Regions from separate parts of the Homo sapiens genome. Here all the other regions are linked to region 4. Evidence: fine-mapped expression QTL. A gene starts in region 4. Each other region holds a variant in brackets. All regions are shown on one strand. Distances are between the middles of the regions. Region 1 overlaps CYP11B1 (cytochrome P450 family 11 subfamily B member 1). Region 2 overlaps ZC3H3 (zinc finger CCCH-type containing 3). Region 3 has its middle 3.4 kb from the start of LY6L. Region 4 holds the start of LY6S-AS1 (LY6S antisense RNA 1).

The links. PIP is the estimated chance that this variant, and not a neighbour inherited with it, causes the effect.
Region 1: its variant is fine-mapped to the expression of LY6S-AS1 in lung (GTEx, PIP 0.91).
Region 2: its variant is fine-mapped to the expression of LY6S-AS1 in subcutaneous fat (GTEx, PIP above 0.99).
Region 3: its variant is fine-mapped to the expression of LY6S-AS1 in subcutaneous fat (GTEx, PIP 0.98).

Annotation. Positions count from the first base shown.
Region 1 is chr8:142,873,322-142,879,188 of GRCh38, reverse strand. It overlaps CYP11B1 (cytochrome P450 family 11 subfamily B member 1), which reads left to right. Exons shown (of 9, transcript NM_000497.4): 2 at 2-157; 3 at 1,967-2,166; 4 at 2,304-2,507; 5 at 2,794-2,948; 6 at 3,311-3,477; 7 at 3,877-3,955; 8 at 4,035-4,232; 9 at 4,703-5,867. The coding sequence ends at 4,816. Among named protein-coding and RNA genes, the nearest start is that of CYP11B1, 3.6 kb to the left of the region's middle. The variant C/T (reference allele first, on the strand shown) is at 2,780.
Region 2 is chr8:143,469,573-143,475,439 of GRCh38, reverse strand. ZC3H3 (zinc finger CCCH-type containing 3) reads left to right here. Exons shown (of 12, transcript NM_015117.3): 5 at 1-42. Among named protein-coding and RNA genes, the nearest start is that of SNORD149, 34 kb to the left of the region's middle. RefSeq lists an enhancer at 4,162-4,863. The variant C/T (reference allele first, on the strand shown) is at 3,225.
Region 3 is chr8:143,074,249-143,080,115 of GRCh38, reverse strand. It overlaps a transcript of LY6S not described here. Among named protein-coding and RNA genes, the nearest start is that of LY6L, 3.4 kb to the left of the region's middle. The variant G/A (reference allele first, on the strand shown) is at 2,970.
Region 4 is chr8:143,036,921-143,042,787 of GRCh38, reverse strand. LY6S-AS1 (LY6S antisense RNA 1) reads right to left here and starts at 3,579. Exons shown (of 6, transcript NR_149322.1): 1 at 3,219-3,579. LY6S (lymphocyte antigen 6 family member S) reads left to right here. Exons shown (of 4, transcript NM_001406478.1): 4 at 1-1,949. RefSeq lists enhancers at 1-182, 759-1,334, 3,356-3,907.

The DNA of each region.
Region 1 (5,867 bases), 160 kb after region 4:
GGTACGACTTGGGAGGAGCAGGCATGGTGTGTGTGATGCTGCCGGAGGACGTGGAGAAGCTGCAACAGGTGGACAGCCTGCATCCCCACAGGATGAGCCTGGAGCCCTGGGTGGCCTACAGACAACATCGTGGGCACAAATGTGGCGTGTTCTTGCTGTAAGCGGCGAGCTGAGAGCTGGGAGCAGGGTGGGCAGCCTGGGTGTAGGGGGGAGGCGAGAGAGGCAGGACCCAAAAGCACATCTGCCCTGGGCCCCTGTGGTGGGCAGTGAGGGTGAGCACCCGACCCAGAGGACGGCCATTCCGTGGGGTCGTGTCTGCCCTGTGGGTTGGGGAAGCAGGGCGGTGGTGGAGAAATGGGCACGGGCACCTCTGCAGAGAAGATGCAGAGCAATGAGCCCTTCTGTGTAGTGAGAACCCGCTCTGCACCAACCTTGGCCGATGCTTTCTCTTGCGGTCTGGGGACTGTCCTTCCCATAGGTCAGAAAACTGAGGCCCTGAGAAGGGTACTCCCACTGGCCCAGGTCACAGGCTGAGTACTGAGCCTGGTGTTCGCCGGGGCCGCAGCCTCCCTCAGGGCGCTCAGGGTCCCTGCAGTCCTGGCAAACCTTCCTGATGGGGACAGTCCGGGGCAGGAGGCAGGTGGGGATGCAGGTGGCTGGTGGCTCCATTGTTCTCAGAAGCAAGGCACGAGGTGGGGCGGTTGATGGCACTGGGGAGGATGTTTCCTGGCCCGTGCAGAGGGTGGCGCCTGGTCAGGTGGGCAGGGAGAGGCTGATGCTTGGAGTCAGTCACCTGCAGGAATGTTGTCATTAGGACGGGGGAAGGACTGGACGAGGATGTCACAGTGGCGACAGCCCCCACTCCATGGCAGGAGGAGAACGCTTTTGGGAATAGTGGGGTTTAGGTAAAAGGGCACTCAAGGGTGGGGGCCTTCACTGAGGCTGGCCTACAGACGACATCTGGGAGGGAGTCAGGACCCAGGAAGGCAAGTCCAGAAGGCTGGGTGCACATAACGGAAGGAAGGGGAGCGCACCTGTATGTGTGTGCGTCTTGCATCTGTGCACATGCTGTGTGTTTCTCTGTACCTGCATTTGCACGTGTTGTGTGTGCATGCGTGTGTGCACATGTGTCTGTGTGCATGTATGTGTGGTGTGTGTGCACGAGTGTCTCTGTGTGTGCATGTGCAGGTGCCGGCATGGGTGTAGTGTCTGTGCACATGTGTACATGTGTCTCTTCACACATGGTGTTGAGGTCTTGCATGGGCGCATGTGAGCATGTGCATCTTCTGCCTGCCATCACTGTCAACAGCTCACAACAGCCAGCTGGACATAAATAAAGCTTTGAGTTTTGCAGAAATGTGGCTGACAGGGGAAATTCCTCCCCACCATTCCCTGGGGGCATCCATGGAGCCCCCACGCACTCTGGCTGTAGGTGAGGATGGCATGAAGCACAAAGCTTGGTTTCTGTCCTGCAGAAGATGCAGACACTTCACTGGGGCTGCTGCCCCAGAGGCACTGTGCCCAGGGCAGGGAAGGGCGGGGAGGAGAGGGCAGCCAGGGGCTCTCCCCTCAGGACACTGTGTGGGTGAGGTGGGCAAAGCTTGACAACAGGGGTCAGTTCCTTTCTTGCAGAAAATCCCTCCCCCCTACTACAGGGAGGGCCTGCATGGGTGAGGTGGTGCCAGACTTGGGGTGCCAGGTCCCGGGAATGACCTCAGTTACCCTGTCAGCACCTGTGGGCAGAAGCTACCATCTCATCCCTGCTTAGACCTGAGTGGCCTTTGTCCAGCACCTGGAGGCCGCTCTGAGAAAAGGCTGCAGCTCGAACACAAACAGGCAGCTTCTACCAGGGCCCCCAGTCAGCTCCCTGCAGGCCGATTCCCCTTGGGGACAAGGAGGATGGGATACGGGTCAGGGCCTGTGTCTTGCTGGGGCGGCCTCACAAGCTCTGCCCTGGCCTCTGTAGGAATGGGCCTGAATGGCGCTTCAACCGATTGCGGCTGAATCCAGAAGTGCTGTCGCCCAACGCTGTGCAGAGGTTCCTCCCGATGGTGGATGCAGTGGCCAGGGACTTCTCCCAGGCCCTGAAGAAGAAGGTGCTGCAGAACGCCCGGGGGAGCCTGACCCTGGACGTCCAGCCCAGCATCTTCCACTACACCATAGAAGGTGTGGGCCACGTGGGAAGATCCAGCCTCAGAGACCCTGGAGTGGCCAGGGACGGGGATGGGGGACTGAAGGGAGTGTGGGGAGGCAGCCAGGAGGCCCGGGGCTGCCTTGTGCTCAGCAGTGCATCCTCCCCGCAGCCAGCAACTTGGCTCTTTTTGGAGAGCGGCTGGGCCTGGTTGGCCACAGCCCCAGTTCTGCCAGCCTGAACTTCCTCCATGCCCTGGAGGTCATGTTCAAATCCACCGTCCAGCTCATGTTCATGCCCAGGAGCCTGTCTCGCTGGACCAGCCCCAAGGTGTGGAAGGAGCACTTTGAGGCCTGGGACTGCATCTTCCAGTACGGTGAGGCCAGGGACCCGGGCAGTGCTATGGGGAAGGGACACCATGGGGGCCCAATTTCTCCCTCTCCACCACCCAGTGGGGAATGGAGGCCACAGGGAGGGGTCGGGGATTCCTCACCTTCCTGCCAGGGAGATTGGTGCGAGGCTGGGGCTGGGCTGGGCTGATCCGGAGAATTTGGGATGAGAGCAGGGAGACTTGGGTGTCGGGGCAGTCTGGGCAGGAGGAGGACACTGAAGGATGTCTCCCAGCACCAAAGTCTGAGGGCTGCCTCC[C/T]GCTCCCCGGATAGGCGACAACTGTATCCAGAAAATCTATCAGGAACTGGCCTTCAGCCGCCCTCAACAGTACACCAGCATCGTGGCGGAGCTCCTGTTGAATGCGGAACTGTCGCCAGATGCCATCAAGGCCAACTCTATGGAACTCACTGCAGGGAGCGTGGACACGGTCAGGCCGGCAACCAGCCCCACCCAGAGAGGGTGATGCCAAGCCTGCCTCCCAGGCACTGCCTGCCAATGTCACACGGCGCCCACGTGTCCCATCCCCAGGCTATGGGCCCCACATTTCTTACTTGGGATTGTGATGTGATAAACACGTTTGCAGGTTGCCATGGTTGGAATGGGGGGTTCCTTTCTGTGGAGGACTCAGGGAAAGGGGTTTGGATGGGCATTAGGATTTGAAGTCTTGGGCTCTGTCGTTCTCAGGGTATGCATGTCTGCACCCCTCACAGGGAGGTTGTCCTGGGAGGGGTGTCCCGGGGGCTGAGTCCTCCTGTGCAAGGTCTGACCCTGCAGCTGTGTCTCCTGCAGACGGTGTTTCCCTTGCTGATGACGCTCTTTGAGCTGGCTCGGAACCCCAACGTGCAGCAGGCCCTGCGCCAGGAGAGCCTGGCCGCCGCAGCCAGCATCAGTGAACATCCCCAGAAGGCAACCACCGAGCTGCCCTTGCTGCGTGCGGCCCTCAAGGAGACCTTGCGGTGGGTGCTGGCTGAGGCCTCCCTGTGGCCCTGGCCCCCTGCTGGAGAGCAGCCCCCACTGGGTGGTGGCAGACAGAATCTGGGGCTGATAAACAGCGTCACCCAGCAGCCCATTCCCCTGCACCTGCTCTTCCTCCCCCTCAAGGACAGGGAGCTCTTCTTTCTCTGGAATCCCTCTTCAACGCCCTGGGGATTAACGTGGAGCATGTCCTTCTGCGCTCGGGGCTGCTTAAGTTAGGGGAGGTTTGGCCGGGCTCAGCAGGTGCAAGGAAGCACTTCCTACGACCTGGGCTTCCCATGGATCTGGGACCTCTGCGGGTTCTTCGGTAGGAAGGGTGCAGAGAGCACAGGAAGCCCCATCCAGCTGAGGACCCTTTCTATGGATGCCCCCACCTCCAGGCTCTACCCTGTGGGTCTGTTTCTGGAGCGAGTGGCGAGCTCAGACTTGGTGCTTCAGAACTACCACATCCCAGCTGGGGTGAGTGAGCCCCACACCCCTCGAGCTGAGAACCTCCCTCCCCAGTCATTCCCTGATCCCCGCTCTGCACCGTCCGCAGACATTGGTGCGCGTGTTCCTCTACTCTCTGGGTCGCAACCCCGCCTTGTTCCCGAGGCCTGAGCGCTATAACCCCCAGCGCTGGCTAGACATCAGGGGCTCCGGCAGGAACTTCTACCACGTGCCCTTTGGCTTTGGCATGCGCCAGTGCCTTGGGCGGCGCCTGGCAGAGGCAGAGATGCTGCTGCTGCTGCACCATGTGAGCAGGCCCGGGCTGGGGAGGGGCCTGGGCGGGGTCTGGGCAGCATGGGCGGGGCTTGAGCAATGTGGGACTGGCCTCGGCAGAGTGGGAGTGGCCTGCATGTTTCCTGGACTGGGCAGAGCCGGTACTGGGAGAACCTGGGCCAGGTTGAGGCTGTGTAGGTCCTGGGCAGGAGTTGGTATGGTGAGGAGCGTACCATCTGGGTGAGGTTGCTGCTAAACCGGGTCAGGTGGGAACTGGGGAAGTCGGGTGGAGCCTGTACAGGATAGTGGGGCTTGGGCAATACCTGGGCTGGATGAATTCTGGGCCTGGGCTGTAAGGTGGGGCTGGTCAGGAATGAAACAGGTTGGAGGCCAGGCTGCTGTTCCCCCTTCAGCATAATCTCTGCAACTTTGAGGGTCTGAGAAGGCTGCACCACGTGCATGGGCTGCGGACCAAGCCAGATGGAAACCCGGCTTCTGTCCTAGGTGCTGAAACACCTCCAGGTGGAGACACTAACCCAAGAGGACATAAAGATGGTCTACAGCTTCATATTGAGGCCCAGCATGTTCCCCCTCCTCACCTTCAGAGCCATCAACTAATCACGTCTCTGCACCCAGGGTCCCAGCCTGGCCACCAGCCTCCCTTTCTGCCTGACCCCAGGCCACCCCTCTTCTCTCCCACATGCACAGCTTCCTGAGTCACCCCTCTGTCTAACCAGCCCCAGCACAAATGGAACTCCCGAGGGCCTCTAGGACCAGGGTTTGCCAGGCTAAGCAGCAATGCCAGGGCACAGCTGGGGAAGATCTTGCTGACCTTGTCCCCAGCCCCACCTGGCCCTTTCTCCAGCAAGCACTGTCCTCTGGGCAGTTTGCCCCCATCCCTCCCAGTGCTGGCTCCAGGCTCCTCGTGTGGCCATACAAGGGTGCTGTGGTTTTGTCCCTTGCCTTCCTGCCTAGTCTCACATGTCCCTGTTCCTCTTCCCCTGGCCAGGGCCCCTGCGCAGACTGTCAGAGTCATTAAGCGGGATCCCAGCATCTCAGAGTCCAGTCAAGTTCCCTCCTGCAGCCTGACCCCTAGGCAGCTCGAGCATGCCCTGAGCTCTCTGAAAGTTGTCACCCTGGAATAGGGTCCTGCAGGGTAGAATAAAAAGGCCCCTGTGGTCACTTGTCCTGACATCCCCATTTTCAAGTGATACAACTGAGTCTCGAGGGACGTGTGTTCCCCAGCTGATCGTGTCAGCCTCATGCCCCAGGCCTCATCTTTCATGGACCAGGCCTTGTTCCAGGAGTGGGTGTTGGGTCCTCTGCTTCCTGTGCTGTCCCCTGGGGAAGGTCCCGAGGATGCTGTCAGGAGATGGAAGAGTCATGTGGGGTGGGAACCTGGGGTGTGGTTCCAGAAATGTTTTTGGCAACAGGAGAGACAGGATTGGGCCAACAAGGACTCAGACGAGTTTTATTGACTCATTTCTCTGGTTGATACGGAGCCATGTCATGTGCCACGACCTGGGGTGGGCACAGGGAGGCTGCAGTTTCCTGCGTGAACCTGCCTTGGGCCTCATCTGCTCCTAGCCCAGCAGAGAGAGTTGACCCCTCCTGAACTGGCCACTCCCCAGTGCTCCCGTGCAGGGAGAGGAAGCACCCAGTTTGAGAG
Region 2 (5,867 bases), 430 kb before region 4:
GCCAGCCCAGTGATGCGGGCAGCAGGCCCCTCCTGCGCACAGGTGAGAGGTGAGGGCGGGGGCGCTGGGAGATGACACCGACCGGCTAGCGTGTGGTGGGCATTGCAGGCCAGACCCCCTAACCTCCAACATGCTGTGGCTGCTCTGGGCCTTGGCTCACGCCCCTGTCTTGGGGAGGAGGTCAGGGGCCTCATGCTCCCAGGGAGCCAGTCCAAACAAGCACTTCCCAAATGGGTCACGTCCCATCCTGGGAGTTAATTTCACTCTTCCATACACCCGGCGCCTTCGTAGCCATCCCTAGTGAGACCAACAGGGCAGCCGGAGAATGGAGGGTGCCAGGAGGCCTTCCTCTGCCATCCCCCAGGAAGGGCCCTGGAGTGGCGCCCACCTCGCGTGGCTGAGCGGCCCCTGATTTTCTGTGGGGTGGGGGAGAGTTGCTCACAAGCACCATGTTTCGCTTTTGGAAAAAGGATGATGCCAGGTACGGCAAACACGCCCGGGCGAGCGCACACCTGGGGCCGCGGCGCCCGTAATCGCATTGGCGACGCCTCGACAACTGTGTCTGGAGGCAGCCGGCGCCGCCACCTTGCGCCCTCCCAGCCCAGGGAAACAGGCTCAGGAGAAGGAAATGCTTTGGATTCACTTATCCTACAAATTAACTAGAAAAATATTTTGGTTTCAGTCCAATTTTACCCCCTTTCTTGTCCATCAAAAAAAAAGAGGGAGATTGCAGGTGGTGTTGGGATTGCAGAGGCTGGGCCATGCTGGCTCCCCGACCCGCCTGGGACCTAGAGAGAGAACAGGTTCAGCCCCTGGAGGAGGTAGACTCCGACGGCAGGGTCTGCGGGGGTCAGAGGAGAGGCAGGAAGCGTACCTCCCTGGAAGCCAGCCTCACTGGCCGCCCTGCCTGGCTGTGTTCCTAGCATCCATCTCTGGGCTCCAGGGGCTTCTGGGCTGTTTCCTGGGCAGAGTCGCTGGGAGCAGCACGGGGGCCCTGGCACCTGCCCCACAGGGCTCTGAGCCACACTGTGGCTGGTCAGTGCCCATGACCATGCCTGTAGCCTGGTGGCTGGGGCTGGGGGGTCCTGGTGAACTGGGCAGGAATAAATCCCCACTCGCTGAGGATCTGGTGAGAAGCCCTGGGTCCCTTCCTCGGCACTGTGTCACCCCTGTGTGTGCCTCCCACTCACTGAGGATCTGGTGAGAAGCCCTGGGTCCCTTCCTGGGCACTGTGTCACCCCTGTGTGTGCCTCCGCTTCCCCACCCGTACCTTGAGGGACTGGGCTGTGTGATTTGTGCGTGTGGTCTCATCTCTGCTACACCCCGGGTGCTCAGTGCAGGAGCTGGCTCAGAACATGGGGGCCTTGGTGAGGCTTTGCCCCTGGGGGATGCTGCCGTGGGTTGGGGGATAGGCCTTCCTGTCACCCAGCAGGGCCTTCTCTGGTTACCTCTGATCCTCGGACTCTGGAGCTTGGTGGCCTGTGGGGCTACACACAGCTGTTTGTATCGTGGAGGGGAGGGGCCTCGGGCTTCTCTCCAGCAGTCATTTCCCTGAGTGAAGTATAAGCCCCTGGCCAGTCTCTGGCACAGCAGGTCCCAGGCGCCTGTGGCCGTCCACCAGCCACCAGCCATGTGAGCCAACAGGGACCCTGACCAGTGGAGCTCCCGGGGCCAGCAGCAGGTGCTCTGAGGACATCGTGCTTGACCCCCAGGGACAAAGCCATGAGGTGCCTCTCTGCTCATGCCGGGTGGTCCCACCTTCCCCTGGGCCTCCTTGGCAGAGGCCAAGCCCCACGTTGGCTGGCACTGTCCTGAGTGCACTGACACTGCAGGCACAGTCCTGGCACTGGCTTTCCTCTCTGGTCCTAGAGGCAGTGGGCAGAGCAGCCAGGCTGATCCCTCTGCCCAGGGAAGGGCACCCCGAGCCCTCACCTGCCTGCCTGGGTGGGAGGGTGCCCTGCATCTCCCATGGATGCTGCCTCTGACGTCCCTAGTGCAGGGAGAGGCGTGGGCTGAACACCAGTGAAGATTCCTGGGGCCCACAGGTGTAAATACGCAGACTCGTGTCCAGTCAGGTGGTCAGGGAGGCCTTTCTCATGAGCTGAAAACTGAGAGGGCCCAGAAGGGACAGAAGCAGCAAGAGCATCCTGAGGCCGCCATGCAGAGGCCTGGGCAGGAGTGGGAGGGGGCGTGAGGCATCGCAGGACCCTGTGCACAGCCAGCAGGGGGAGGAGATGGGTTGGGGGCAGGCGGGGTCTACCTGGCACCACTGCACCCACATTCAGAAAGCTCCCGGTAGTCACGATAGTAGTACTGACTGAGGTTGATAATTAAGTGGCCAAGACAGCAGCCATGGAGACCATGATGTCCTGACGTACGCGAGAGCCCCAGGCGGCCAGGATAGGCAGCAGAGGCTGCTCCTGGCAGTCAGTCTGCAGGCCCTGCCCTGCTCTGCGGAAGCTGGAGCCAGGGAGGGGATGCCTACTGCCCTTTCCAGAGCCAGAGCCCATCCCAGGGAGGACCCACCCACTCAGGGAGTGGCCCCCACTGCAGCAGCTGCATCCCACTCCCTGCACAGGGCCAAGGCTGGCCCCGCCTGTTCACCCAGGTCGCGGTGCGTCCTTGGGATTCTCCCTGCACCGTGCACCCGCGGGACCCACGGAGGGGCTTGTGGCATGGGTCCGTCTCCCCGCACCGGGGCCCTTGGGTCGTCTCAGCCCTCGCCGGGATCCTGTGGCCCACGTTTGTTGGGCTGGGTGGGCCTGTGTGGGGAGGTGCACCTGCCATCCCAGCTCTCCCATCCCTCAGTGTCCACAGAGACGCCTGTGGCAGGCAGCAGGTTTGCACTTGGCCCCCTCAGACACGGTGCCCACCACCCGGATGGCCCAGGGTCTGAGCTTTGGGGAGGAGGGAGTGCATAGCCCTGGCCCGCTCAGCAGTGGGGAGGAGAGGGAGGGGCTGCACACTCCTCCCTGGGAGGCTGTGGTGCTGCTGTGTCTCCCCGTCGGTGCCAAGTGCTGAGCTCCGCAGAATCTCGCCTTGCCATTTACACACATGGCAGAGCCCTGGCGGGCGCAGAGCCCCTGACGTCACCACACTGTGAACAGTCTATCCCGGCCACCCTTGCTGACTGGCCTCTGCCTCCGTTGGCCCTTCCCTTGGCCCAGAGCCATCAGAGAGCCAGTCTGGTTCCCCCAGCCCTTCTGGGGCATGTCTCACCCCTG[C/T]ACCAGCAGCAACCCAGAACTCCTTCATTCAGCCTCAGCAACGCCAGCAAGGAGGGTCTGGCGCACAGAGGCTGGTGCCAGCCAGGGCAGGCAGGGGTCCAGGGGCCTCCTTGCTCCCACCCCTGCCCCTGGGGAGGCCCGCCTGCCATCGAGTAGGGCTATGGCCTCCGGTGTCCCGCTGGCCAGCCTTGGTGGCGACTGTGGCAGTCCTGGGGCTGTGCAGAGCCCAGTGAGGCCGCACTCGCCCTTTGGGTCGACAGGCGAGGCCACAGCTCCAGCTGCCTGGGCCACCACCGGCCCCGCCTCGCCATGAGGAAGGTAGATGGCTCCCAGCTGTGGGATACCGCTGACCAGCCCACTTAAGAGGAATAATAATTAAAGAAATAAATTTCCTCCCCTGGTGTCAGCAGAAATTTGACTTCAACAAGAAAGTGCAGCAGCCTTCTTGGAAGGGGTGGGGGTGGCTGTCCTGGCTGACCCCCTGGGCTCTGGGCCCCTGACGGCAGAGGACAGTATGGCTTCTACCCCCAGCTTCCCCAGTCCCTGAAGCCGAGCCCTCCCTCCTGGGCCCGCCTGCCACCTGAAGGCCTGAGCTCCAGGGTCCCTCCCCACAGAATCCTGTGTGGGCCCCCAGTGAGCATGGCCCATATGTGGCCACCATGAGCCTGATGGCTCCTGTGGTGGGGCAGAGGCCCCAGTCTCTGGCCACAGGGCTGGCCTTGGCTTGTTCTGTGTCCCCAAAGCCCCCAGCCACCTGTGGCCGTGGCCCTCCCTGCTGTGGGCCAGCTGCTGCGTGTTCCTGGCACGTCCGGCCTCTGCGCCTCCCCTGCTGGTCACCTGCCCACCCTCCCTGGGGTGACGAAGGCCCTGTCGGCTTGCCCCCGCCCCACACTGCCTCTTCTGGGGCACCCTCTGCCGCTGGCTGCCTTCTCCCAAGGGCACAGCCTCCATGTGCCAGACGGACGTGCCCTGGAGGGCCTGGTGGGCGCGCTGTGAGCAGACCAGGGCTTGGCGCAGCCCTGCCTAACTTCTTGGGAGAGTGCTGGCCTGGGAATTGGGGCTGCCTGCGTGCCCCGGTCATCGTGGATGTTGTCCCTTGGGCCAGGCAGCAGCTGTCCAGTGGGTGCTGGCCGGAGCAGGGCCTGGAGGTGCTGAGGAACCTCTGACTGCAAGGCCCCCACCCCGCTTGCCTTGCAGAGCCTGACATCCAGCGGTGCCCAGAGCTGGCACTGGGGCACCGAGCAGGGGGTGGGGCTGGTGGGAGCCGAGTCTATTCTGAGAAGATCCCGGGGAAGTGAAAGTTCTCTGGAATGCATGGCGCCTTCTGCTGTGGAGCTGCTGGGGGTTATTCAGTTGAACTTTTTAGCACTTCTCAGGCAGCCCTTGCTTCTTTTCCAGCCAGCTATTTTATGTGCATTTTTTAACACTGCAAAGCATTTGAAAAAGTGCCTCCTGTTCTTGTCAGAACTCCTGCCGTGAGCCTCACACTGGCATTTTTTTAAAGAGCACAAAGTGGAAAGGGAGGTAACCCCTCCTGCTGCACCCGGTCCTGCCAGGCGGGCACGTGATGCCAGTGTGTCCCTGCCTGGAGCAGATGGCGTCGCAGTGTCACTGGCAGCCTGGGCGAGAGACTGGGAACCAGCAGTGCCGACAGACCGCCGCATTGCCGCGTCCCTCACCCCACAGGCTGGCAGGTGTGAGGGCGTGCCCGTGCCGTCTGGACTGGGCCCTGCTGCCCACCCGGGGACAAGGGTCCCGGCCTGAGAACGGGGGCTGCCCTGAGCACCCCCGCGTTGGTCCCTCCGCACCAAGACCCTCATCACCCTCCCTTTGCCCCTGGCCCCCCACACGCCTCAGGTTTCTGCGTTCTTCAACGCCCCCTTTCCTGCCCCAGGTACCATGACTAGCTCCTGCTCCTGCCCCAGCCGGGCTCGCTGGCCACTCAGCTCTGGAGCTGCCCTTTTGAAACTTGAGACGGGCTGAGTGGGGACAGTAGGCAGGGCCCCTGAGGGTGAAGGGCAGCAGCACCACTGACCCTAGCTAGGGAGCACTGGGCTGGACGCAAAGCACAAAGCGAGGAGTGGGGGGGGCTCCAGCCTGGGGGTGCGAGGGAGCGGAAGCCTTGGGTCCTCGGGTGGGAGTCTGCGGCTGCTGGGCCATCTGGGAGAGTGAGGACGAGGCTGCTCTCTGGTGCTCAAGAGTGGGGCAGGTCTGGCTATTTGGGGCTGGGCGGCTTTGGGACATCCCTTTTTAAACCAGGATGGCTTTGTCACCACCTCAGGTCCCCAGAATTTCTGAGTGATGTCACCTCTGCCTCTTAACTGCAGTGTCCATTTCAGCATTTGCCCTGTAGGAAATTGGATCTGGTCTGGGAAGGATCATGCGCGTATTTGAGGAACCCGGGAAAGCCGCCCTCAGCAGGCTGGTCCTGCCCTGCCCACCCCGTGATCCTGGGTGACCTCTGTCTGTAAAAGGCAGGCAGGGCTGTGTCACCGGAGCAGACCCTCCTCCTCCAGATGGCACCCCCTCCCCGCCTCATCCCCTTGGCTCTCAGGCCTGGCAGCACTCGGCCATGTCCAGCCCCAAGGTCCATTTCCTTCCTGCCACCACCGCACTCCCAGGCCGCCCTCCCAGGCCGTGGTG
Region 3 (5,867 bases), 37 kb before region 4:
ACAGGCACATAATCTTCGTTCTTTCTAGAGTGCTTGGAGCGCTTTCCCCTGGCAGGGGTGGCCTGGGAGGAGGGGAGAAGGGAGGAGAAGGGCAGGCGCCTCCAGGGGCCCCTCAGGCTGGCTCAGTTGCCCAGAGGAAAGCAGGGCGTGCTCCCATAGCCTTACAGGAGCCTGGAGCTGCCGCAGGGGTTGGGAGCTGCAGCTCCAGGACTCCTGCCAAATTTCTGGGACCTGCAGGGGGCTGAGTCCCGGCCTTTGAAGACTGGTGCCCTGGAAAAACGGCTCCTGTGCAGGCTGCCTCCCAGCTCTGTCCTCCCACACTTCGTCCTCCCACAGGTGAGGCTGGGGCCCAGCCGGGTCTGTCGAGTGCTAAAGCGTCCCTGGGCCCGTTGGAGGCTGTGGTTCCAATTTCTTTTGCAGCATCTGCTCGGCCCCATGTAGGTCCTGGATGCAGAGTGTGAGGCCGCCCCCGTCATAGCATAGACCTGCGCCCTCCTCACTAGACTCATCTGCCTCCTACACTGAGTCTTCCCTTGGTCCTATTCTTTATTCTGTTTTTTCCCCGGGAGCCAAGGGAGTTGACCCGTGTTCTCACTGGGCCGCTGGAACCCAACAGCATGGACATCCCGGTTGGTGGGCACCCAGCTCTCCCCTCCGGAGGTACTGTCACACCCTCTCCCGCCTCACCGGGGGCACAGGGCCCTGCCAGACCCAGGTGATGTCAGGAAATGCTGTCCTCAGTCTGGAGGACCACCGAGCCACTTTCCTCCTCGGAGCCCTTCCCTCCAGCCCAGGTGGTCACACAGCTTTCACCCCGTGTCAGGTTTGCTCTTTTCTGCTTCCTGCCTTCATTTCCTGAATGACATCCTTTTGAGCATGTATGATGACAAGCAGGGCTGGACCCTGGGTCTGCAGCAGTGAACCGGCCCAGTCACCTGCCCTCAGGGGTCTTGCAGGAGGTAGGTCTCGGAAAGAAGAAAGGGGTAACTGCTACCCATAAGGTGGTTGGGAAGGGCTGCCCCTGGCCCCAGCGTGACTGCTGCCCACCACCTCCAGGGCCTCCGCATCCTCTCCCGCACTGCAGACCAGCAAGCCCCTCCCCTGCTGTGGCCTTTCCAGTAACGGCTGCTGGGAGAGAAAGTGCCAGTCGGAGAGTGAGTGTGCAGCCAGGTGGGGCCATTTCCCCTGCGTCCACATAGTGGCCCACCCAGCAGGACTGTCCCGTTCCTGTTTCCCCTGGTGCATGCTCTAGGGATGCCCCAGACGGGCCCTGCCCTCTGACCCCTGCCTGTCCGGGCTCAGCGTCCTCTGCTCCCTTTGTCCTCTGATGCTCCAGCCCTTTCTGCCGCCCAGCCTGTGTGTGGATCAGGGCTGTTTTGGGGGTGGGCTTAGAGGGCACGGGATGGAAGTTGTTTGGAGGGGAGGGGCCATATGCAATTTGTTTATCATGTGCATTTTTTCATTTGCCATTCTCACTGTGATTGATTTGAATGAATTTGGCACTGTGAAATCTGCAGAGTCAAAAATCAAAAAGAAAAATCAAAAGAACATCGGCATTGGAGGCACATGCAATAAAGGAGTCCAGGTGGTAGTTGGAGGTTGGAGGCTGGAAGGAACACACAGGTCTCAAAGGAAGTGGCTGAGGGATCTGCAGAGACTCATCTGAGCCTGTGGCTGATGACAGGGTGTTGGGGCAGCCACGGCCGAGAGGGCCGTGCTCGGAGCCACACAGCTTTCAGTGCTCACGAGAAGGGACTGGCCCTCCCCAGGGCTGACCAAGTTCCTCAGTACTGCATCCAGCTGTGCTCCTGGCCTCATTTCTTCTCTCCTTCATGAATTAACTCCCAGACACAGCAGCCCCTGGAGGTGGTGGGGACTAACCAGGGACGGGAAAGGGTCAGTCAGCCTGTGGTCAGCAGGGTGGGCGGGTGCAGGCCTGGTGTTCCCAGGATACTTTGCTGGGTCATGCAGTTATCCCCATCACGTATCACTCCAGCTCCCTGGCGGGCACAGCCTGTGGCTGTTCCTGGAGGCACCCCTGGAATGAGTACAGTTCATGGACAGGCTTCAAAACAGCCCAGAGCAAAGATTTGGGTCTGAGGGCGGGGGCATGGCTCTGCGGTCTTCGCCTCCACGGTTCCCTGACTTGGTCCTGCAGTTGCCCAGGAGAGGCAAGGCCACCTCCTTGTTAAGGGCTTGCTTGTTCCTGGTGGTCTCTGTCAGGAGCCCCCACCCCGCTGGCCCCAGACTCCAACACCTGTCCAGGTGTGTGAGCCAGTGTACATCTGGCAGCAGAGAGGCCTGTACGAGCACAGCCCACAGGCCCCAGTGACGTTTGTCAAGTGTTTATTCTATCAACATTCTTCATTTCTGGCCTGATTTCAATCCTAGGAGGTGGGTACAATAAGTCCAATTCTAAAAATAATAAAATGGAACAGAGACCTGAGGAGTTGGCTTCATGATGGGGGATCAATGTCCCAATTTTAGCACCAAAGTCCTGCGACCTGGGAAGCCCTCGGTGCTGGGCAAACCAGGATGGTTGTTGCCCTGATTCAGGATCACCCAGGTAATAGGTAGAGGGCTGAATTCAAGCCCGGCTCAGCCGCATGGAGCCTCGGCCTGCACTCTGCACTGCTTCTGAGCGGTGCTGGGAGCAGCGCTGTCCAAGGAGCCCGGGTCATAAAACCCAGCTGGTGAATAGGAACCATGTTTGTATGTTCTAGAAGATGAAAGAATAGAATTGAATTGAATAATAAAGATCAGAGTACATTATGCACAATTAGGACACATATATTTTAATGAAGAAAGTAATTTAAATAAAAATGTGTTTTATTTATGCTTATATATTTTTGCTTGTGTATATATGTGTGTATATAATGTTTTAGATATACAAATATATGTGTTATAAGTATGTTTGGTATTTTATTTCATATTTTATATTTATGTTTTATGTTGTAAATATGTTTATC[G/A]GTTATAAATCTATGTGAATATGTTACGTAAATGTTATGTGTGTCAGTGTTTTGGGTGTGGATATATTTATTAACTTTTTAAAGTGTAGATCTCAATCAGGAAAATGTGCAAGCTTCCTGTTTAGATGAAGTGGATGACCTTCCTTCCTGCCCTTATTGTATTCACTGTCAGAGAGCTGGGTGCCAGCAAGCTGCTGTGTGGGTATGTGCGCCAACCCCGGTGTAGGCACGGACGGAAACACACTGTGGAATTTTTCCAGTGAAGGGGATCTTGGCGTGATGTCCAGAGGCCTCCCCGAGTGGTGTCCTGAATGAGTCCCACAGTCTCCATCCCTGTGCTCTTGCTATGGACTGCCAGGCTGAATTGTTGACACTGAAGATCATCGTGCTCCCGCTACACTTATACCTCTGACCCTTTTTCCTTCTCACCTTGGCTGTTGGGAAGCTCAGATCGTAACCATTTGCCCCAGGCACACGTGTAGGGCCTGGCCAGTTTCTTGCTCGCCCCTCCTGGCTCTGCCCAGGTCATAACTTGCTTGCCTTTCTCCTCCCCTTGCCATGTGGAACCCTGGTTTGAGTGTCTGATTCTTAGGGCTGTGGAGCTTTAGCCCTTTTGACTCTACATAGTTTTGGTGACTTGGCTTCTTTCACACTCCAGTTCCTGGCCCTGCCTTGGGGGCTCCATGCACAGCTCTCCCTGGGAACAGGTCTTCTCCTTGCCCTGTCTTAATCTGGGGATAGGTGTCTGGGCGTCCCCAGCGAGACCCCTCTCTGCTGCTGACAGGGCTCCCAGGAGGAACAACAGTGGCACCCCAGAGAGGTGTGGGGGTGCTGAGAGAATTGGGTCAGCAGTGGGGGCCTCACACTCTGGCCCCTCACTCCCTGTGCCTGAGCAATTCATCAGGTGCTGTCTTTCTTAGACGGACAGCTGTGTGCAATTGTGTTCTGTTTCTGACTTTGGGTTTAGTGACATCAGTAAGCCTGAATGGTCTCCCCGGCGCACAATCCTTCTGGTTCACAAAATCAGTCAAACACACAGGCACCAGGGAGCTCTTGAACCAGAGAGTCCGGTACTTTCATTTTGTCCTAAAGGTACAGATTGTTATCATTTTCATTTTTTTTCAAGGCAACAGTGAGCAAGGATTTTGTTATCATTTTCAAACTGACACATTTACCACACTGACAATATTCTCTGACCCAGCACAGACGTTCATAACAAAAGCATCAGTGACATAGTTACACATGTTAAAACATTGAAAACCACTATTCTAATAAACCACAGTTAAAGAAGAAGTCATATTGGAAATTAAAATACCTAGAAATGATTAAAACTAAGATACTACTATCAAAACTATTGGGCTGCAGTAAAAGCTGTACCTGAGAAAAATCTAACCCTATATATTTGCATTGGGAAATAAGAAAGGTTAAATTCTTTTTTTCTCTGAGATTGAGTCTTGTTCTGTTGCCCAGGCTGGAGTGCAGTGACGTGATCTTGGCTCACTGCAACTTCTGTCTCCCGGGCTCAAGTGATTCTCCTGTCTCAGCTTCCTAAGTAGCTGGGAGTACAGTTGTGCACCACCACGCCTGGCTACTTTTTGTATTTTTAGTAGAGATGGGGTTTCATCATGTTGCCCAGGCTCGTCTTGAACCCCTGACCTCAGATGATCCACCCTCCTCGGCCTCCCAAGGTGCTGGGATTACAGGCGTGAGCCACCGTGCCTGGCCTTATTTTTGAATTAATAATGTTCTCAGCCATTAGAGTGATATTTGGTGAGTAGGAGGGAGACTTTTTTCTTAGGTGATCAATGCTGGAGTTATTAGGGGGAAACTGGTGGGAAGCCTGAAGTTAGCAAGCTCAGGGTCCAACCTCCACATTTCAAAACTCAACTGAAGAAAAGAGACAGGACTGAGAATGCCTATTAACAAAACAGAAAAATCAGCACAGCCATGGCTGTGTGTTTGAAGGAACAAAAATTAGACAAATATCTGGCAAGACTGAATAAGGAAAAAAGATCCACAGATGAATAATGTAAATGAAAAAAATGAGTCATAATGACAAATAACTCCCAGATTTTGTAATGCAAAAAGACAAGATTTTCACGTCCAGTTAGCATGAGGAAAGAGTGTGAAGCCAACCTTTCTATTTCAACAATGAGAAAAAATGGAATTATGTACAAAAATTATCATTTCTTTCAAATGCATTGGAAAATGGTGGGTGCAAATCTGAAGGAACTGCCAGTCTTGGGGGGCCCCTTTCTCGCAGTGGAGCTGAATGGTGCTGAGGGCGGGTTAGTCATCGGCAGAGCTCTACCTGCGGGGAGAGACTGATGTTTCTTGGTTCTTTTGCATATAATTTCTAGCACACTACCAAAAATTATAAGAATTACAGGAGAGTGTGATTTTCAACCAAGAGATAAGCTATTCAATAGAAGCAGATGCACAGATAACCCAGATGAAAGAATTAGCAGACAAATGCTTTACAATATTCTTGTAAATACATGAAATGAGATGGAGGAAAGGATGAACAAAATGGATGAAAAGATGGAGAATTTCAACAGAGAGATGAAAGCTATGAAAGTAGGTGCTCATTATTTGTTATTAAAAATAAAATAAATAATAAAAATAAGTGTTTATTATATTAACCAATTAATATAATACCTGAAATTAAGAACTCATTGGATGGGCTTAAGAGCAGACTAAACATATAGTAGCAAAAAGGATTGATGAAGTTTCAGACAGGTCCATAGAAATTATCCAAAATAAAGCACAGAGAAAAGATAGAATTAAAAGTACACAAACACACACACCCACATACACACATGCACAGAGAGAGACAGAGACAGAGAGAAGAGGGCCATATGGTACTGATCCAACTGTCTAACATGTGTATTGGAATCC
Region 4 (5,867 bases):
CCCCAGCTCCATCCAGCTTGCCACTAACTTGCCGAGGAGCCAGGGCCAACCCCTCAGCTCTCTGGGCTACCTGAATCCAAGCAAGGAGGGAACGTGGTCCCAGGGGGCCCTGCTGGCCTCCCACACAGGATGAGGGCCTCCCTCTCAAGGTCAACAAACAGCCCTTTGCTGACCCACTCAGCGTCAGCACTCGGCTTCTTCCTCACCATTCCTGAGGCCGCCCACCTGCCACTCTGACCTCAGGCCTCTGCAACATCCTGCTGGCACCATGGCCTTGGGGAGGTGCTCCTGGGGCACGGGTGCCCCCCCAGGGACCAGAACCCACAGAGTGCCAGGCTCATGGCTCTTCTGGCAGAACTCTTGCCATGTGGCTCCAGGGAACATCTGAGTAGGGTTGTCAGAGAGCCTCTGGATGGTCACCAAGAGGCAGAGCTCCTGCGGCCACCAGCCATCCTGTGGTGTGGGCCAGGCCTGTCATTTCTGTGCCCTGGCTAGGGCTCCCATGATGCCCCGTGTCAGGGGTTAGACTGGTCTCCCCTGGTGGTGGGAGAAAGGGGCTCCTTCAGGACTGCACTCTGGACAGAAAGTCAGGGCTGGGCTCAGAATGGTCTGGGTGGACGGTCATCTCAGCCTGGAGTCAGGGCTGGGCTGAGAACGCCCTGGGTGGACGGTCGTCTCAGCCTGGAGTCAGGGCTGGGCTGAGAACGCCCTGGGTGGACGGCCGTCTCAGCCTGGAGTCAGGGCTGGGCTGAGAACGCCCTGGGTGGACGGCCGTCTCAGCCTGGAGTCAGGGCTGGGCTGAGAACGCCCTGGGTGGACGGCCGTCTCAGCCTGGAGTCAGGGCTGGGCTGAGAACGCCCTGGGTGGACGGCCGTCTCAGCCTGGAGTCAGGGCTGGGCTGAGAACGCCCTGGGTGGACGGCCGTCTCAGCCTGGAGTCAGGGCTGGGCTCAGAACAGTCTGGGTGGACGGCTATTGTCAGGGACCCCAAACAGAGGGACCGGCTGAAGCCATGGAAGAAGAACATAAATTGTGAAGATTTCATGGACATTTATTAGTTCCCCAAATTAATACTTTTATAATTTCTTATGCCTGTCTTTACTGCAATCTCTGAACATAAATTGTGAAGATTTCATGGACACTTATCACTTCCCCAATCAATACCCTTGTGATTTCCTATGCCTGTCTTTAATCTTTTAATCCCATCATCTTCGTAAGCTGAGGAGGATGTATATTGCCTCAGGACCCTGTGATGATTGTGTTAACTGCACAAATTGTTTGCAGAGCATGTGTGTTTGAACAATATGAAATCTGGGTACCTTGAAAAAAGAACAGGGTAACAGCAACGTTCAGGGAACAAGAGAGATCACCTTAAACTCTGGTTGCCTGTGAGCCAGGTGAAACAGAGCCATATTTCTCTTCTTTCAAAAGCAAATAGGAGAAATATCGCTGAATTCTTTTTCTCAGCAAGGAACATCCCTGAGAAAGAGAATGTATCCCTAAGGGGAGGCCTCTGAAATGTCTGCTTTGGGGACGGCTGCCTTTTACAGTTGTAGATAAGGGATGAAATAAGCCCCAGTCTCCCGCAGTGCTCCCAGGCTTATTAGGATGAGGAAATTCCCGCCTAATAAATTTTGGTCAGACTGGTTGTCTGCTCTCAAACCCTGTCTCCTGATAAGATGTTATCAATGACAATGTGTGCCCAAAACTTCATTAGCAATTTTAATTTCGCCCCGGTCCCGTGGTCCTGTGATCTCGCCCTGCCTCCGTTTGCCTTGTGATATCTTATTACCTTGTGAAGCATGTGATCTCTGTGACCCACATCCTATTTGTACACTCCCTCCCCTTCTGAAAATCACTAATAAAAATTTGCTGGTTTTACGGCTCAGGGGGCATCACGGAACCTGCCGACATGTGATGTCTCCCCCGGACGCCCAGCTTTGAAATTTCTCTCTTTTGTACTCTGTCCCTTTATTTCTCAGACTGGCCGACACTTAGGGAAAATAGAAAAGAACCTACATGAAATATCGGGGGTGAATTTCCCCCGATAGATGACCATCTCAGCCTGGGGTCAGGGCAGGGCTCAGAATGGTCTGGGTGGACGGCCGTCTCAGCCTGGAGTCAGGGCAGGGCTCAAGGTCTGGGTGAATGGCCATCTCAGCCTGGAGTCAGGGCTGGGCTCAGACGACCAGCAGTCTTTGACCTGCCATGCCGGGAGCCACATCTCGTGACCAGGTCCTGGCCTTCCACGCTGGCCAGACGCCTGCATCCAAGACGTCCTGGTCCCTCTGACTGCACAGTGTGACAGCCACCACCCAGCCATGCCCTGTACTCCTGGATGTGATTTGCTAATTAGGGTCAATGGGGTAAGATGCCCAATTAAATATGAATTTCAGATAAACAATTTTTAGCATAAGTATGTCCCAAACATTGGTAAAAATGACTATTTGTTGTTTATCTGAGATTCAGATCAAACTGGGCATCTTGGACATTTTATTTGCTCAACTAGAAATTCATGAGTGCCTAAGGAGCTCAAGGGACATTCCAGACCCCCCAAATCTGTGTCGGACACAGGGGCAGTCACAATGGGGTGCAGTGGTTGTACCTGGTGACTCAGGACATTCGTCTACCTCCTCATGTCCCCCCTGCCTCTAGCACCACAGTGTCATGCCCTACCCTCCAGGGGGCCCAGAAAGCAGTGCTTTTGCCCAGGGCCATTGTCCCCTAGATAGAGGGTTCAGCCCAAGGAGGGCAGCCCTGATTCCCAAGCCTCCTGCAGCACTGACTCTCCACTGCAGCAGGCCTGGGGTTTCTGGCCATGGCTCGCCTTTGGCTCACCTCTCCAGAAGGTCTCTGGAAGCTTCTTCCCCACAGGGTCCTCCCTTCCACTGTAACCTTCCCTGGTTCTGGGAAACAAACTTGAGAGGCCCAGGCGCACCCCACCTCTTCTCTTTAGGTCTCCACAGCTTTTCCTCTGCCTCGTCCCCAAGGGGATCACTCTGGCCTTTCCCCTCTCCAGTGACCCTCTCCACACCCTCCCGGCTTCCCCCTTCCTCTGAGCACCCCAGATGCCAAAGGACAAGGTGAGGGAGCCTTTGGAGAAATGTTGCCTGACGTCACTGGTCCCCCACGCTCGGGGGACCCACACGGCCCGCCCTGCAGGCAGCCCCCTCCCCGCAGGCAGCCCCCTCCCCGCAGGCCGCCCCCTCCCCACCTCACCTCACAGCTGCAGGGGTCGGGGCTCGGAAGTGCTGGGGGCAGTTCAGGTTGAAGGCTGGGCAGCGTGCACTTCTCCCCCAGCCTCCTGGGGCCCGGGCATCACCGGAAGCGGAGTTTGTTCCCACTTTGTATCAGTCGCAAAGAAAGAGCACCCAATTGGACAAAAGGCAAGCAGGCTGCGTTCCTGGCCCGGAGTGGAGAAGAGTGAGCCCCTGCCCTGTCAGGGAAGCTGAGGCTGGGGGTTGTGAGGAGTCCCGTGCCGGGAGGAGGCTGCAGGAGCGCCTCAATGCACCTCTTGATACCACGCATGCTTAGCAAGGCCTGGGGACTGTCCTCTCGGGCAGGACTTCCGCCTTGTAATGACATGTCGCTGATTTAAAGGGAACTGGGGGTCACCAGCTCTGGTTTGTGCAAGTCTGGTGCGTTCTTATCTCCCTTGTATTTGGCAGGGGATCCTAAACCTCTCCTGGTATGTTGAGACATCTGGAGCTCATTAAGCCTCGGCGCCTGTAGATAAAGAGATTAAAGGAAAAAAGAAAAGAAATCCCGCCCTGGGGCAGCTGGGGTAGGATTAGCCTGGAGGCCACGCCTCTGCAGGGTCTCCCATAGGCTGGGCCAGCCTCTGCCCTCCCTGCTTCCAGAACCCCGGACGCTGATGGCCTGTGGCGGCCACTCTCCGCCCACCCCGGAGCCCAGCCTAGCGGGGAGAAGGCCGCCGGCCCGTTCGAATGTCCCTCTGCTTCCAGGGTCAGCCTGCACGCCACTCTCACAGAGGCCAGACGGGCGGTGGGGCGGGGACTCAGTTCATCCTCTGCCTGAGGAGCAGGTCTCGGGTGCGACTGAGCTTTTCACCCTTTGAGAGGAGTCAGGGACACGCAGCGTCTCCAGCAAGCTGGTGGCAGAAACTGATGGAGCATCCTAATCACAAAATAGGAAGAGAGTTTGCAAAATAGGAGCATTTACCAGAAGCCTCTCTCTCTCCCTCCCTCCCTCCCTCCCTCTCTCTCTCTCTCCCTCTCTCTCTCTCTCTCTCTCTCTCTCTCTCTCTCTCTCTCTCTCTCTCTCTCTCTCTCTCTCTCTCTCTCTCTCTCTCCCTCCCTCCCTCTCTCCCTCTCTCTCTCCCTCCCTCCCTCTCTCTCTCCCTCCCTCCCTCTCTCCCTCCCTCCCTCTCTCTCTCTCTGTGTGTCTCTCAAGTAGAAGTGGGGTCTCTATGTTGCCCAGGCTGCTCTCGAACTCCGAGGCTCAAGCGATCCTCCTGCCTCAGCCTCCCAAAGTGCTGCGATTACAGGTGTGAACTACTGGGCCCAGCCCCAGGCCCTCTTACAGGAGTGGGCTGCCTAGAAACATTCCAGTGCCATATCCCACTCCACTCCGGGTGCAGGGACAGGACCCCTGCCACCCCCAACCCAGGCCCAAAAGGAGGGGCCAGGAGGGGAGGGGCCACCAAGGCAGGTGAGCTGCTTAAGAGGAGCGAGGGCTGTGGACAGTCCTGCGGACTGCAGGAGGGGCCAGCAGGATCAATATCCAGCTTCTCTCTCCTGCTGGGCTCCTGCTGGGGCTCCCTGTTGGTCACCCCAAAACCTACTGTCTCTCATCGCTGCCGGGGCTGGCCAGGCTCAGCTGCTGGTTCTGCCTTGGGGCACCTCCTAGGTGGAGTCAGGGTGGCTGAAGGCTTCCCCACTCATGCGTCCACTGTCTGGACATCCTGCCCCTGCCCGACCTCCAGGAGTTGCAGTGTGTGAAGGCCACACCACAGCCCCTCTCTGCTGCCTCCCTCATGTCTCCTCCAGAATGATGCTCTTAACCCCCTCATTAGAGGCCCCCATCCTTCCCAACTGTACCTCTTGACACCCTGAGTACAGTTCAAGAGACCCTGAAGAAACTCAGAAAAGTGACAACTGGAGGCTCTGGGAGAGAAGAGTGAAGTCACTCACATTTGTTTTTATTTACTTATTTTTTTTTTAGAGATGAGGTCTTGCTTTGTTGGCCAAGCTGGTCTCTTGAACTCCTGGCCTCAAATGATCCTCCCATCTTGGTCTCCCAAAGTGTTGAGATTACAGGTGTGAGCCATTCTCTCCGGCTTACTCTGCGTTTTACAGGATGGGATGTGTTGATGAAAGAAAGCCAAACTCTAAAATATTTGAAGAGGTTTATTCTGAGCCAAATGTGAGGACCATGACCTCACATGACAGAGACTCAGGAGGTTCGGGGAACATGTGCCCAAGGTGGCCGGGGTACAGCTCGATTTTATACCCTTTAGGGAGAAAGAAGTTACAGGATGAGATGGTTTGGATTTGTGTCCCCGCCCAGATCTCATGTGGAATTGGCGGAGGGGCCACGTGGGAGGTGATTGGATCGTGGGGTCAGACCTCCCCCTTGCTGTTCTGGTGATAGTGAGTGAGTTCTCAGGAGATCTGATGGTTTGAAAGTGTGACGTGTCCCCCTTCGCTATTTCTCCCTTGGGCTCAAGGGATCCACCTGCCTCGGCTTCCCAAAGTGTTGGGATTACAGGTGTGAGCCACTGCGCCCGGCTGAAGACTCTGTTGATCCTGATTTTTTCCCCATTGCTATTATGGCTGTTTTTCTCCTCTTCTTTTCTTGACTGGTCTCCCACAAGAATTATCCACATTTTTAAGGCTGGGCGTGGTG